Linked DNA regions of Homo sapiens: region 2 is linked to region 1. The links come from fine-mapping of genetic effects on gene expression. A gene starts in region 1. The other region holds a variant in brackets. All regions are shown on one strand. Distances are from middle to middle. Region 1 holds the start of PGAP4 (post-GPI attachment to proteins GalNAc transferase 4). Region 2 overlaps LOC105376184 (a long non-coding RNA gene).

Region 1 (8,342 bases):
ATATATCCTTTAATATTTAATATATATTCTTTGAGTTTATACATATAGTTAATGTATTTTATATATATTAAAAGAATAAAATTAGAAATCAATAAAAATACCTAGAGAAGCCCCAAATATTTGAAAATTTAAAAATACATGTCTGAATAACATGCATAAAGAATAAATTACAAGGAAAAATTGAAAATATTTTGATCTGAATCAGGTAGTCAATATGACCTGTCTGGTAGATGTGAATCAGCTTCTTTAGTCAAGTAGTGCTTGTTTAATGGGCCTATGTACAAAATGGCCATGTCAGTCGGGACAGATTCTGAATGATTTCAATAATTGTACTGATCAATTTCAATAATGTGCTGATTTTGCTACCGTTCATGTTAAGTGCTCAAACTGTCAACAGCAATGATCAAATGCTGGTTCTGTGATATGGCTTTATTTCCCAGAAGAACCAACCAGCTAGCTGGTGCCAGGTTGGTTATACTGCACATCTATTATCGGGGGGGAATAACCATTTGTCTTCTGTAGAGATTTCTGGGTACCAATTTTCTTTCCTAGGCCACAGCACTTCTGCTAATACCACTATTCATGAACTTACAGAATAAGCGTACCATTGCCTTGCTCTACCACATATTACTTTTGCCCAGGGGACCCATTTTACAGCAAAGGAAGTATGACAATTAACTAATATCTTTGGAATTCAGTGGTCTTACCATGGATCCCATCAAACAGAAGAAGCTGGTATTATTAAATGGTGTAATGGTCTTCTGAAGGCTCAGTTATGACACCAGCTGTGAGACAGCACCATGAGAAGTTGAGGTGCTATCCTCAAGAATGCAGCACGTTCCTTAAACCAATAGCCAACGTGTGGCATAATTTGCCGATAGCGAGAATTCAGACATCCAGGAAGCAAAGATATATTCTTCTCACTATTACAGCAAAAAACTTACTACAGAGATATTTTTTTCTTCCAAGCCCCACAAACTTAGCAGGTTTGGAAACTCTCATATCCAAAGAAGAAGTACTTCCACCAGGGAATTCACAGCCTATTGAGCTGGAAACTGGAACAAGAAAAGAAAGGCACCACTATATAGCCTTAAGTAATTGATTACAATACCAATGGGAAATTAGTTGCTGCTATACAATCAAATCAAGGAGGACTATATCTAGAACCTAGAAGTTCATTAACAAGTCCATGTGAGTACACACATATCCAATAGTCCTGATCAGTGGAAAACTGAAGGAACTCAGTAACAAGAGATGCACCAAGAACCTAAATCTTGTAGGATCAAAGGTTTGGGCTGAGCGCAGTGGCTCACGCCTGTAATCCCAGCACTTTGGGAGGCTGAGGCGGGCAGATCACTTCAGGTCAGGAGTTTGAGACCAGCCTGGCCAAAATGGTGAAACCCCAGCTCTACTAAAAATACAAAAATTAGCTGGGCATGGTGGTATGTGCCTGTAATCCCAGCTACTCGGGAGGCTGAGGCATGAGAATTGCTGGAACTTGGGAAGTGAAGGTTGCAGTGAGCTGAGATTGCATCACTGCACTCCAGCCTCGGCGACAGACTGAGACTGTGTCTCAAAAAATAAAGTAAAAAAATAAAATAAAATAAAAAAGTTTGTAAAGAGCCTTTACAAAGAGCCTTGTAGGAGGCCTCTGTAAAGAGCCTTATACAGTGAAGTGCTGGCAGAAAGGGGAATGTGCAATGGGTAGTGGAAGAAGAAAGCTATGATTCTCAACTTAAATTTCATGACCAACCATAGAAGTAGGGATTCTAACAGTTATGTTTCGTATTGTTTGTCCTCCATCCCCACTCTTCCCATTAGGAAGGGTAATAGTAACGATTAATATTTTATGTCTCAGGTATATGTTCAAATTCAATTACTCTATTATGACACCATAGTTACTGGAACTTTTTTTATGTGTCCCAAAAGGTTTGTTCAATTTTTATATGAACAAAGTACAAGAGAAGATGTTCAGAGTAAGAAGACTTTACTGGATATCTTCTGTTTATGCCTCCTGGTCATCCAGTCAGCTCTGTGTCCTGGGAATTTGAGCTACATGGATTGCATCAAGGGCTCTCTTGCCCTCTGATTTCTGGTTGGGTTCAGCCAATGGGAGACACTAGCAGGAGATAAGATGGCAGAAGAAAGTAGAGTTATGCTATTTATTCTCCTGGCTCTTTCCCTGATGGGTCACCATAGGTTCACTGCCTCATTCCATTAGTGACAGGTCCCATAGGATGTCTCCCTTTTTACAATTATTCTTTTGTTGTTTTAATCACTGTTTCCTTACTTTGCTCATCAGGCCTAGGATAAGTAATAGTTCCTTGGTATCAAGCCCTAGGGTATGCACTGCACTATGCCTTATTGGTTTTCTTTAATTTCACCCACACCTTTGAAAATAGATTTTTTTCATTATCCTGTTGTAGTGTGTTATTTCTGGCCAAAGCCTAACCAATGAAATACCCTACTTGCATAGAGGTTAAGATGTTTACTATAATAATTGTAATAGTACCCACTACTAGTGTCTAACCTCTTATTTTATTATTCTTCTTTTTTTTCTATTTTTGCTTTGCTTTGAGAAGAAATATAGCATGTTGATTAAGAGAATGGACTCTGAAGCCGGATTTCATCAGTTTGGATTTTGGCTTTTCCTCTTTCTAGCAGTTTGGGTAAGTTACTTAGCTTACCTGTCTCATGGGGTTGTTGGAGTGATTAAGAGTTAGTAAAAAGCACTCAGGACAGTAACAGCCATAGAAAGTACTAGGGAAGTGTTTGATCTTACTATTTAAAATATTTATCAATACCTGATATAGTATGCATTTATTTGCTTATTATCTATTGTCCACCCAAATGTAAGCTCCCTAAAGGCAGAGACTTGGTTTTGTTCATAGCTGAATCCTTACTCTCTAGAAAAGCACTATCTCATAGAACTTTCTGTGATGATGGGATGTTCTATAGCTGTACTATCTAATACAGTAGCACTAACCACATGTAGGTACTGAGCATTTCAAATGTGGCTAGTGCTACTGAGGGACTGATTATTACATTTTATTTAATTTTAATTAATTAAAATGTAAGTAGTTACATGTGACTAGTGACCATGAGATTGGACAGCACAGACATTGCCTGGAACATCATAATAGGTACTCAATGAATTTTTGTTAAACAAGTGAATAACTACCAACCATTTATAGAAAGCTAGATATTTTGACAGGTAGAATGCTAAGCACTTTATATACATTATCTCATGTAAACCTCTCAACAAACCTATGAGGGAAATATCACTGTCCCCAATATATAGATGAGAACATTGAGGCACAGAGGAGTTAATTTGTCATAGCCAGTAAATAGATTAGACCCCAGCACTGAGCCAATGACAGTGAACTGAATTCAACTTGTGTTGGTTACAATCCTCCAATTTCGGAATATCAGACTCCCATTTTTTCTCCCAGGAAATGAAACTACCTTCCCAAGCTCCCTTTCTGTGCTATATCCAGCTCTCATACTTTCCAGCCTCAGATATAGGTTTTCCAGCATTCCTAATGACAAATTCCTTGAGTGAAGGATCCACACCTCATTCTTACTTCATTGTCATCTATAGTGATGGCAGTATGTCAGAACCATTCTTCAGTAAATGCTGGCTGAAAGAGTAGATGATGAATGGGGGCTCAGGTGGGTGTTTGTAAGGTTCTAAAGGAAGTTAATATCTAGTATCAATTTTACTTACACAAGAAGAAATCATATGAGCATTTACTGGCTTTAATGCTTTATCTTGTGACCACTGAACAGACCTTTTAGAGCAGGTGTTGGCAAATCAGGCAGTAAATATTTTAGGTTTTGTGGGTCATAAGGTCTCTGTCACAACTATCCAACTCTGCTGTTCTTTCATGGTAGCAGCCATAGACAATATGTAAATGATGACTATGTTGCAGTAAAACTTTGTTTACGATCATCAAATTTTGAATTCATATAATTTTCGTAGCCCTGAAATATTCTTCCATTTTTAACCATGAAATATTGCAAAAAACATTCTTAGCTTGTGGGCTGTACAAGAACAGGCAGCAAACTGTAGTTGCTAACCTGTGGCCTAGACAGGCAAACCTAGGATTAGAAGCACTGAGTAAGGCCGTACAATTGTGTGCTGAAAACCCATTCAGAAGGGAAAGTCCAAGGTGGAATGTAGGAGGCTGTTACTTTTCTTTTGACCCCCACATTTTTCCTCCCTCGGATCATTCCGTATCTTTTTCCTATTTGCTTTGCCGGGATTGTTCTCAATCAATGTGCATACTTTCTCATACCTCAGGCGTTATGTCTCTCGTGGCCGTTTGTGTTTAAATTGAGGGTTTGGGGAAGACTGAAAAACATTCAAGACCCAAAGTAACAGCTTTCTCATGAAGCGTTTACACGCATTGAGAGATATCGTTCCATTGGTGTGAATAAGTCTCTATGTACACACCTGATGAAATATAATGCTGGCTTCTAGTCCCCTCACAAAAGAAACAGGCTTCCTGTTTGCGTGACTTGGGGGCGACTCCTGCTTTTCCCTGGCTGCCCATCAGTTGGCGCCTTTTGCCGTCCTTTTTCCCCAAGCCGCTTTGGGGGCCGCGGTCTCTCCGCAGCTCGCGGGTCACATGGCCCGCCTGAGCAAGGGGAGCCCTGCGCCTGAGCTGCGAGGCGGGAGGAGGTGAGGCTCCGGCGCACACCCAAACCGCGCTGCGCCCGCTCCTTCCGGGCCCCGGAGATGGCGCCTCCACCGGGATGAGCTAGCCAGCCTGGGCAATACCAGAGGCGGCCCTCGGCGCGCGCAGGGGACCGAGCTGGTCGCCCCAACCGGGTAGGTTTCTGTTGCGCACGATCTGCCCAGCCCTTCTGGCGCGGTGGTCGGAGCCCTGGACACTAGAGCGAGGGGACAAGGATTAGGGGTGGCCACAGCTGGCACAAGCAGGGCAGCTGGGGGTTGGGGAGAGTCATCGCAGAGGGCCTGTGCCCCGGGCAGTGCGCCTCGGGCAGGCGGGTTGCCTAGCGGCCCTGCCCGCAGCTCCGACCGCTTCCTGCCGGAGGATTGCGAGGACCCCGCAGGGGTCCCCAGGGCAGCAGGGGCCCGCATCAGTGCGGGGATGGTTGAGTGTCTCGGGGGCGCCTCCCTGGCCCTTGCCTGCGCCAGCTGCGCTGACAGGTCAATAGAAGGACGCGAGCGGGGCGCGTGCCAGTCTGGGTAAGACCCTCGCCGAGCCTAGCAGGGCCGAAGCGCCAAGGGGCCTGGCGCCTAATGGCCGCCCGCAAGCAGGGGACCCTCGCGGCGCGTCCACACCTTAGGTTCGCCGGGCGCGCCGAGAGCGCGGCAGCAGTGTTGGGTTTCTGCGGGCGACCTCGCAGCCAAGGGCTGGGGGAGGGCGACTGGGCAGAGGAAGGCGTCCCTCCCAGGACCAGGAAAAACCAGCAGAAGGGAAGGAGCGCAGCGATGGAGACGGTCAGCTCGGCCTACGGGTGGGAAACTGAGGCTCAAGCGTGGCAGGGACTGCCCAAGGTCAGCGACAGACACTAGATCCAGGGCCCTGGACATCGTCCCCCATTCTTTTTCCAAGAGGGAGGGTTAATTAGATCCACCTGGGTGTGTCTCGCCCTCTTTCTGGCCCTTGGCTCCGGCGTCGCTAGTGTCGCACTGCGCTCGCGGTGTCTTGGGGCGTGAGCTCCTGCAGGGTCGTTGTGACCCGCATCCTCTGCTCGGCCCAGGCTCTCTCCGGGGGACCGCAGGGCGGCTCCAATGATGATCTCACCATGCGGACCATTAGCAACACATGCGGGTGTGTGTGCGCGTGCATGTGTGTGTTTCTCCTTCTATAGGGGAAATAGCTTTTTTTTTTAGGGGTGAATTTCTAGAATGCACTGCACTAGGTACTTTATGAGGTGAGAAGAGAAAATCAACATTATTAGAATTATTAGAATGTTGTAAGGATACACATATTAGAAAACATCCAGTAAACAAAAATCCAAAGGAGAAGCAAAATAAAAATAACTTAAAACTTCAACTTCTAGATGGTTTAGATTTTCTGCATATCTTAAAATTTTCTCTATGTATACACATTTGAAGTTTTAAATCAAAAGCGTGGACCAAAAAATGGTATCTTGTCTTAATTTGCATGTCTTTGATTACCCATGGGAATTAACACTTTTTCCTCTGTGTAGTAGCCTTTTGCATTTCTGTAGGTGAGTTGATTGTTAATTCTTCTGCCCATTTTTCAGTTGGAGTATCTTTCTCCTCCTGACTTTTAAACACTTTATGTGTATTACACATTGAAGTAGTAATTCTTTGTCACGTGTTGCACTATAGCGAGTATTTTCTGTTAATTTTTACTAGTTCTAATTCCAAATGATCTTTTGGATACTTTGGTCAATTTTTTATTTTGATGGTTATATGGGCGTATAAATTTGACAAAACTCATCGAAATATATATATATTTAAGTGGTGCATTGTACTGTATGTAAACTGCACCTCAATAAAATTAATTTTTAAAGGCCTAGAAAATTATCATCCTGGGTAATGAGAGAGAATTTGCCTAGTCAGATATTAAAACCTGTTATAAAGCTTTCATAATGAAAATAACATGGCCCTGGCACCACAATGCAGAGAGAGATAGATGCCAAAATCCACAAACAGATATATATATACATCATTTAATTTATTATAGCTATAGCAACTTAAATCACAAATTTAAAAATGGACTTAACAGGTGCCCTGACTGTCATGTTCACCTTCCCAGTGTCTAACACAAGACTCAGTGTTGAATCAAATGCTTAATTATGATTATAAAAGTAATGATCTTTGCAGAAGTGTAGATATCAAAACAGGAAATTGCCATCCCCATACCCTTCTTTTCTCCTTCACTAAATTATACTCCACATTAAAAATAAAATGGTCATATCTCTGTACATTTTTCTGTAATTTGCACTGATATAGTTTGCATTTCTCCCTTCTGGTCTTAGTCTACTTGAGCTGCTGTAACACATTCTCAAAGACTAGGTGGCTTAAACAACAGACACATTTATCTCTCAAAATTCTGAAAGCTGGAAGTTCCAGATCAGGGTGCCAGCATGGTCAAGTTTTGGTGAGGGCTCTCTTTCCGGTTTACATGTGAGAAAGCAGAGAAGAGAAGTGATCTCTCCTGTCTTTTCTTATAAGGACACTAATAAAGAACATGCATTACTGAGGTCTGCACCCTTATGACCTGATTACCTTCCAAAGACCCCATCTCCAAATACCATCATATTGGAGATTAGGATTTATAACACGAATTTTGGCTGGGCAGGAGGAGGACAAACATTCAGTCCAAAGCACAAACCTAGCTAAGATTTCTTTTATGTCAACATATTTAAACCTTTCTCTTCTTAACATTTCCACAGCATACCCTTTTATGATTCTCTAAAAATCTGTTCCCTTTGCTAGGCATTTCATTTGCCTGCAGTTCTTCCTTTCTTCCTTCCACCCTCCCACCCTCTTCCTCACTCTCTCCTTCTCTCTTTCTGTCTTCTTTCCTTTTTCTTCCTTCCTTCCTTTCTTCCCTTTCTCCCTTTGTTCCTCTGCCCCTCTTTCTCTTTTTCTTCCTACTGCATACAAAACAGCACTCAACATTTCTTATCCATCTTTGGTAGCATGTGTTGGCATTTCTGCAGAGTAGATTCCTAGAAGTAGGATCGTTATGTCAAAGGGGATGCACTTATAAAATTTTTATAGATACTGCCCCAACACCCCAACATTTCCTCCAAAGATTGCACCAATTTATATTAAAGTGCCTAGTTGTTGAACTGTGACACTCCCTCGAAGTAAATTAAATTCAGATGTTAAATATAGAGATTAATTATGGAGAAAGGGAGCTCTATTACCAAGTCTTTCCACCTAAGCATTATTTTTCTGTTTATTAATGACTTTTTAATTACCCTTTGGTAGAATTTTGTAGTATGTGTGTATATTCTGCATATTTCTGAAATTTATTTCTAGATATTTGAGTTGCTTATTTTTTTCCCTTTTGACTGGGATCTTTTACTCCCTTAGTTCATTGGTGATCATGTACATGAAAGCAGTCATTATAATATAGATAATATAGATACAGATATGGATATGTAATGCATATATATAGTACATGTGTATATATACTTGCTATGTATATTATATATTATTTTTACATATTAATTCTGGTACCAACCATGTTTTGAGTCTATTGCCATTTCTAATGGTTTTTCAGTTGATTTTCCTGGGCTCCAAATTTATGTAGGCAGTAGTGCATATTGGTTGAGAATGTGGGTTCTGGACACAGTCTGCCTGGGTTCAAGTTTTGCCACCCTGC
Region 2 (8,342 bases), 31 kb after region 1:
TGAGAGATTACATTTTAACTTTCCATGTGAGGCAATCAGAAACTATCCTGGCCGGGCGCGGTGGCTCACGCCTGTAATCCCAGCACTTTGGGAGGCCGAGGCGGGCGGATCACGAGGTCAGGAGATCGAGACCATCCCGGCTAAAACGGTGAAACCCCGTCTCTACTAAAAATACAAAAAATTAGCCGGGCGTAGTGGCGGGCGCCTGTAGTCCCAGCTACTTGGGAGGCTGAGGCAGGAGAATGGCGTGAACCCGGGAGGCGGGGCTTGCAGTGAGCCGAGATCCCGCCACTGCACTCCAGCCTGGGCGACAGAGCGAGACTCCGTCTAAAAAAAAAAAAAAAAGAAACTATCCTAAGCTTACTTCTTTAAGAGTGTGCAAATGGGAGCATTTATAGGTGATACAAAGAGATAAAAAAGAAGAGCATCGATCTATCAGAGAAATATCTTCCCATGAAATACAGTTGCTACAACAAATAAGAGAAATTTTAGAAAATTCCAAATCAAGTTTTTGCCAGATTCAAGAGGACTCTGAGCCAGGTGTGTGTGGCTCATGCTTGTAATCCCAATGCTTTGGGAGGCTGAAGTGGGAGGATCACTTGAGCCCAGGAGTAAGAGGCTGCATTGAGCCATGATGATCACACCACTGCACTGGGTGACAGAGCAAGACCCTGTCTAAAAAAACAAACAAAAAAAACTTCAAGAGGACCTTGAAACTTCAAATCGAGAGCACATAGTCATGAAACATTAATGAAAAAAAAAAAATCTAGAACCATCTGTTGGTTGTAGTGAATTTGATAAGCCTGTCTGGATCAAATTTCTTAATCCTATCCTGCCACCTCCTTTCAATACCTTGAAAAACGCCACCGTTTAGAGTATGTGCACAAGTGACAAGTTATGGTCCCGAATCATGATCTCATCCATCCTTGTGAGCTAGGTTGGACTGAATGTCTTGAGCCCAAATGAGTCCTCTTCCTGCCCATGGGGCTTCCTTCACTCTGGTTCTTCCTTAGTCTTCTAAGTGGAGGGAGCAACATTTTTAACTGGGAGGGATAACCCAATGTCTTTCCATAGAACCAGCTTCACGGGAGCAAAGGAAGACGCCATTCAATAGAAAATACCTAACAAGAAAGAACTCCAAGATCAAGTGGCATTGGAGCATTTATCCTAACACAGTTCAACTTATCTATCTACATACACCCTTCTCACTGGAAGTACTGATTCCATTCAGATATCAAAGGAGAAAGCCTTGAGCTCCCCCTAGAGAACAAAGCATGTAGCCAGTATTTCCTGATCTTAGCTCTCTGTAGGCTTCACAAGTCTTGCCTCCCCTTCTCTGAAAGAGGCACTGGCGCCTCTTACTGCCTTGGGCACACGTCTTTACAGTACTTACCGCATTGTGCTATTTGTTGCAGCTCCTCATTCCCTTTCACATGTGAGCCTCTTGACGGCAATCAGACTGTCATTAGGTTTTCTCTTCTATCCCTTAAAATGGTGTCTGGTGCAAAGCGGGCCCTCAGCAACTATGTTTGTTAGGGAAATAAAGCATTCAGGAGAAACAAAAAATATTAACATTCCTGGAATGTTAATATTTTGTCTTTCAGTGCTCAGTTATTTCTCCTGCTTTCTTTTCTACTTCTTTACTCCACCACATATTATAACTAGCAACTTACATAGCCCTTGTTCATGCAATATGACACTGAATCCTACAATTCTATGGGAATAGAATTTCCCTTTTACTCTTACTAGAAAAGAAAATGGACATTCAAACAGGTGAAGTGAGCTGCTTAAGGTCACATAGCCAGGAAGTATTAGAACAAAGAAACAAAGCCAGGTTTTTCTGACCAGATTTCATGATCAACTAGGTGACTTTACTGTGTTCCTTTGGATTTTTACCAGCTTTAGCCTTAGTTTGTCTGCAACCGCCACACATGCACACTGCATACACAGTATACACACATGCACACTGCACATAAATTAGCAAAATGAAGATAACTTCTTCTGGCTCTCCCTTCTTTCTGCTTTATAACATGATCACTGATTGTAAAGCATTCAAACAATATACTCATTCTCAAGCTTGATTGCACATTGAATCATCTGGGTAATTTAAAAAATTACTAGAACCTGGGTTCACTTCCAGTAGTTCTGACTTAATTTGTCTAGAGTGGGCTGAGCATTCAGATTTTTCATAGGTTGTTAATGTACTAAGTTGAGAACCACTGCAATACAGAAAACTGTAAATAATTTTTTAAAAATCTGTAATTCCTTGGCCAGGCGCAGTGGCTCATGCCTGTAATTGCAGCAATTTAGGAGGCCAAGGCGGGCAGATCACTTGAGGTCAGGAATTTGAGACCAGCCCAGCCAACATCGTGAAACCCTGTCTCTACTAAAACATACAAAAATTAGCCGGGCGTGGTAGTGCGCGCCTGTAATCCCAGCTACTCAGGAGGCTGAGGCAGGAGAATTGCTTGAACCTGGGAGACGGAGGTTGCAGTGAGCCGAGATCATGCCACTGCATTCCAGCCTGGGCGATAGAGCAAGACTCAGTCTCAAAAAAAATTCTGTAATTCCACCACTCTGAGATGATCACCATAGTTAATATTTTGGTGAATTTATCTTCTCTTTACATTGAAGCATACATCCAGTGTTACAAAAAAGGGATAACATGCAAGTTGTTTTGTAACTTAGTTTCTTTACCTGCACCCTTTTCCTCACCTGTATGTGTGTGTATGTCTGTATGTCTGTAGTGTGTATTCATATATACATTTTAATGGCTTTGTAGTATTTCACGGTATAAAGGTAATACAATCACTTAAAATCTCCTTCAGATAGATAGATAGATTGATAGATAAATTTTCTGTTAAAATCACTACTTCAGTAAACACCTTCGTATATACTATTATGCCACCAGGCTTGTTACAGCATCATTATTTATCTAATCTGATTTACATGTTATTACAACATTTTCTCCTCACCTAAATTAAGAAAAATGAGAGAGGATGCAAGAAAGAAAGAAAGAAAAAAGATATGAAAGGCAAGTCCAGGAAACAGAAAACCCATCTCTCTTACAAATTTTCTGAGCTTATTTTTGACACATATTGGAATGATGCCCTTTGTTTGAAACCAGGGACGACCCATTTCCTAACTCTGATTTCCTTGGAGCCCTTTTTCTGTAGCCCGGGGAGGGGTGAACATGAAGCAGCAAGCCAGGTAGATTCCAGAGGCAGGGTCTCAGCAGGGTGTCCATCAGCCACAAGAGGTCACTAGGGGGATTTTTAAAAACCCTCGCTTCCCTGAGCAAACTCTCCCAGGTGAATACACTAGTTTTCAGGGTGTGTTGGCAATGGTAGAAATGATGGGAACAGAGTGATCTGACAGGATACTAGAATTCTGAATTTATTGTAGACATTGATTTGCTGCAAGATGTAAAGAAAAACATTTCTTTTCCCAATCACACCACCATTGTTTTAGGAATTATTTTGCCATCATAGAAAAGGAGAGACAAGTGGTATGCTCATAGGCTTTGGAGCCATAAATACTGAAATCATATCTCAGCTCAGTATTACCTTC[A/T]GTAAGTTACATAAGCTTCCATTTCCTCATCTGGAAAATGGCCACAATGAATGATGATACCTAATAAATGAAATAAGCCTGCAAAACGCTTGGTACATGTTAAAAGCTAAATAAATATTAGTTGCTGTGTTTGATATTGTGTCTGTGTTTGATATTGGAGGAGAGATGAGTTTGGTTTGGGGCATTTTGAATTGGGCATGCTGTTGAAATATCAAAATAGAGACAATAGCAAGAGCAGAGGGAAACATTTGTGGTCATATACTGCTCATGGGGGTGTTAACTAAACATAGGGACATAGTCTCTTTGTTATGCAATTGGCAGTACGTTTTGAGAACTAAAAGTGTTTTCATAAGTCAGGATGCAAAGTGTATAAAAGGGACCTCAAAATACAACAGCTTAAACTAGGTCAAAATTTATTTCAATCTCATTTAACATCCAGTAGGCAGGCAGTCCAGGGCTCCGCCACCCAGAGCTGGCTTTATGAGGGTTTGTCTTGTGCAGTCACACAGAGCCCCACAATCAGAAGGGCCCAATGTGTAGCCTAATGCTCTGCTGCTGCCATCTTGAAATTCTTCATAATTTCATCTTTGAATTTGTATTTTGTAAGTCAAATCCAATGGGACAATGAAGCATGCACATAAACAGAGGAATACACAGTAGGTGCATCTGTCCTTCCTTTGTATGACACCTGTCATTCACAGTAGGTATATCATGTCATGCCACCATGTTTGAATGTAGTAACGGCAATGCTCTCTGACCACAGAATCCCAGTAGACCCACGATGCATGGGAGTTTGGGGAGACTCCAAGTGAGTACAAGTTAAGTGTGTTATGTCTATGACTAACAGGGGTCTGGGAGAGAGTACTGACAGATCCCAAAAGGCCAAGCATTCCATTCAAACTAGACTTGCTTCTGTTCCAGAAAGAAAGCAATGGCATTGTTAGAAACATGAACAACAAAGGAACCCCACCACATCCTTTATTACTTGTGCTACTTCCCTGTATCAGCCAGGAACTTACTTTGAAAATAACACAGAAAGGGAACAATAGGGTAACCTGTAGTTCCTTTTCCTGTCAGTCCTTCCTTACTCATCAGTAGGTAGAAGGCAAAGCATGTTGATAGAACATATTTTATCAAGCAGTGAAATAAAAACAGTTGAATTTTTTGTGTGTGCATTGTTCCTACTCTTCTGGTAAGAATGAACTACATATCCATGTATGAACCACAAAATACAAATTGTAATTTTTGTGATTCGACACGAGTTAAGTGCTCTTATATTTGCATTTAAAATGGGTGTGGCACAATATAAAAATGAAAATTTATACTGATTTAAACTTTTAGTCTTCTTTACTTAAAACAACATTAAAAAGTAACAAAAATCCTATAAGAAATTAAAATAAAGAGCTTGGAAGAAAGATAAACTTTATCTTTTATTACCTTTAATGGCACTGCTGTATTTTCCACTTGTGGATTCTGTGTCTGCTTCAGCTTTTGCTATCTTCTCACCAGTAAAGAGCTGGGGAAAAAACAACAATGACAGGGAATTGAGCATAATTCTTTTTGTTTGTTTGTTTGTTTTTGTTTTTCGAGACAGAGTCTCACTCTGTCACCCAGGCTGGAGTGTAGTGGCGCGATCTCTGCTCACTGCAAACTCGCCTCCTGTGTTCAAGCGATTCTCTTGCCTGAGCCTCCTGAGTAGCTGGGATTACAGGTGTGCACCATCACACCAGGCTAATTTTTGTATTTTTACTAGAGATGGGGTTTCACCGTGTTGGTCAGGCTGGTCTTGAACTCCTGACCTCGTGATCCTCCCGCCTCAGCCTCCCAAAGTGCTGGAATTACAGGCATGAGCCACCATGCCTGGCAAAGCATAATTCTTTAATGGGCCCACATCATTTCATTACACTCACATCCCACTAGCCAGACCTGTCACACAGGCACATCTAGCTGCCAGGCTGGCTATATAGAAATATCATTAACGACGTAGCTATAGACCCAGCTAAAACTCTACTACTTTAGAAGGGGAAAATGGATATTGGGGAACAATTTGCAGTTGGCCACAGCATTAATTCAATTTGATCTAATATTTCTGGTCCTAGAAGTTTATGAATGAAAAAAGCAGAGGTGTATAAAAAGCTTTACCTATAAGGTTATTCATTGCATCTTTATGTATAATAACAGCAAACAATTAGAAATAGGCAGACTTCCAATAACAGAAGTTGGTTTGTTACAAGAAAAACTTGGAACTTTAATGTTCCCTCCAAACTGAGAAGGAATGAAGAGACCAAAGAATGACTTGAACGAGTCCAGCTTAACGAGTAGATGAGTTTATTAGGACTTATGCACAGGGCACTCCTGGATGGTGGCGGGACAGCTCTCGAGATCCGCACCACCTCCCATCTCTAAACTGCTTTTAAGCTAATTTCTGGCTCTTTGCCTGCTGTGTTTGAGCAATGAGACTGTTTTTCTTGGTAGGTTCTCAGATACTCTCCGGGATATTTGGGTTTTCAGGGACACTTGTTTAGTTCTCTGCAGGGCATCATGACTGTGAGTCACTGCCCAGTCTTCAGGGTTCAGGCAGCAGACATATACCCTTAAGTATCCTGGTGGGGGACTTGTCACACTACCAGTCAAATAAATAAAGGCATATATATATGTATATATATATATCTTAGAATATTATAGACCTATTAAAAATTACATTCTCAGATATGGTTTTTCTATGATTATGTCATAGGAAAATGCTCAAGATGTAATGGAACACAAAAAAGCAGAATGCAAAACCCTACATATAATGCAATTTAGTGGCATTTTTTCAACTATGGGGGTAGTGTCTGGGTTTATCCAGGGATCAAAAGGACAAGACTACAGGCCTCACAGGGTAAATTTCTCATGACATATGGTTTGAACTACAGCCCTGCAGCATCATATCTGGATTTTATTTATAGGCTCAGAACAGATACATTTCTCAGAGTGAATCATCTTAACCAGGGTCATAAGATAAAAACATAGATCCAGAAGACTAGTTATTCATTTACAATGAGGTATAATAGTGACATAAACTGTATGTGTGTGTGTGTATATATGTGTGTGTGAGTGTGTGTGTGTGTATTAGTCCATTTTCACACTGCTGATAAAGACATACCCCAAACTGGGCAATTTACAGAAGAAAGAGGTTTATTGGACTTATATTTCTACATGGCTGGGGAGGCCTCACAATTATGGCAGAAGGTAAAAGGATGTCTCACATGGCAGCAGACAAGAGAAGAAAGAACTTGTGCAGAGAAATTCCCCTTTTTAAACTATCAGATCTTGTGAGACTTATTCACTGTCACAAGAACAGCATGCGAAAGACTTGCCCCCATGATTCAATTACCTCCTAACAGGTCCCTCCCACAACACATGGAAATTCAAGATGAGATTTGGGTGGGGATGCAGCCAAACCATATCATTCCACCCTGACCCCTCCCAAGTCTCATGTCCTCACATTTCAAAACCAATCATGCCTTCCCAACAGTCCTCCAAAGTCTTAACTCACTTCAGCATTAACTCAAAAGTCCATAGTTCAAAGTCTCATCTGAAACAAGGCAAATCTCTTCTGCCTATGAGCCTGTAAAATCAAAAGCAAGTTAGTTACTTCCTAGATACAATGGGGATACAGGCATTGGGTACATACAGCCATTCCAAACTGGCCAAAACATTGGGGCTACAGGCCCCATGCAAGTCCGAAATCCAGCAGGTCAGTCAAATCTTAAAGCTCCAAAATGATCTCCTTTGACTTCATGTCTCACATCTGGGTCAAACTAATGTAAGAGATGAGTTCCCATGGTCTTGGGCAACTCTGCCCCTGTAGCTTTGCAGGGTACAGCCTCCCTCCTGGCTGCCTTCATTGGCTGATGTTGAATGTCTGCAGTTTTTCCAGGCGCACTGTGCAAGCTGTCAGTGGATCTACCATTATGGGGTCTGGAGGATGGTGGCCCTTTCTCACAGCTCCACTTGAGCTGTCCAGTAGGGACTCTGTATGGGGACTCTGACCCCACATTTCCCTTCTGCACTGCCCTAGCAGAGGTTCTCCATGAGGGCCCCACCCCTGCCACAAACTTCTGCCTGGGCATCCAGGCATTTCTATACATCTTTTGAAATCTAGGCAGAGGTTCCCAAACCCCAATTCTTCACTTCTATGCACCTGCAGGCTCAACACCACATGGAAACTGCCAAGGCTTGTGGCTTCCAAAGTCTGAGGCAACAGCCCAAGCTGTACATTGTCCCCTTTTAGCCATGGATGGAGTGGCTAGAATGCAGGGTACCAAGTCCCTAGGCTGCACAGGGCAGGGGGGACCTGGACCCAGCCAATGAAACCAACTTTTCTTCCTAGGCCTCCCGACCTGTGATGGGAGGGGCTGCCGTGAAGACCTCTGACATGCCCTTGAGACATTTCCCCTTTGTCTTGGTGATTAACATTTGGCTCCTTGTTACTTATGCAAATTTCTGCAGCTGGCTTGAATTTCTCCTCAGAAAATGGGATTTTCTTTTCTATCACATTATCAGGCTGCAAATTTTCTGAACCTCTATGCCCTGTTTCCCTTTTAAAACCGAATGCCTTTAACATTACCCTAGTCACCTCTTGCATGCTTTGCTGCTTATAAATTTCTTCTGCCAGATACCCTAAATCATCTCTCTCAAGTTCAAAGTTCCATGAATCTCTAGGGCAGGGGAAAAATGCTGCTAGTCACTTTGCTAAAACATAACAAGAGTCACCTTTGCTCCAGTTC

What was found. PIP is the estimated chance that this variant, and not a neighbour inherited with it, causes the effect.
Region 2: its variant is fine-mapped to the expression of PGAP4 in adrenal gland (GTEx, PIP above 0.99). The same link has a PIP of 0.9 or more in subcutaneous fat and visceral fat.

What each region holds. Positions count from the first base shown.
Region 1 is chr9:101,483,441-101,491,782 of GRCh38, reverse strand. It overlaps PGAP4 (post-GPI attachment to proteins GalNAc transferase 4), which reads left to right and starts at 4,610. Exons shown (of 2, transcript NM_032342.3): 1 at 4,610-4,834.
Region 2 is chr9:101,452,122-101,460,463 of GRCh38, reverse strand. LOC105376184 (a long non-coding RNA gene) reads right to left here. Exons shown (of 4, transcript XR_001746862.2): 3 at 5,008-5,086; 4 at 1,375-1,523. Among named protein-coding and RNA genes, the nearest start is that of TMEM246-AS1, 12 kb to the left of the region's middle. The variant A/T (reference allele first, on the strand shown) is at 3,571.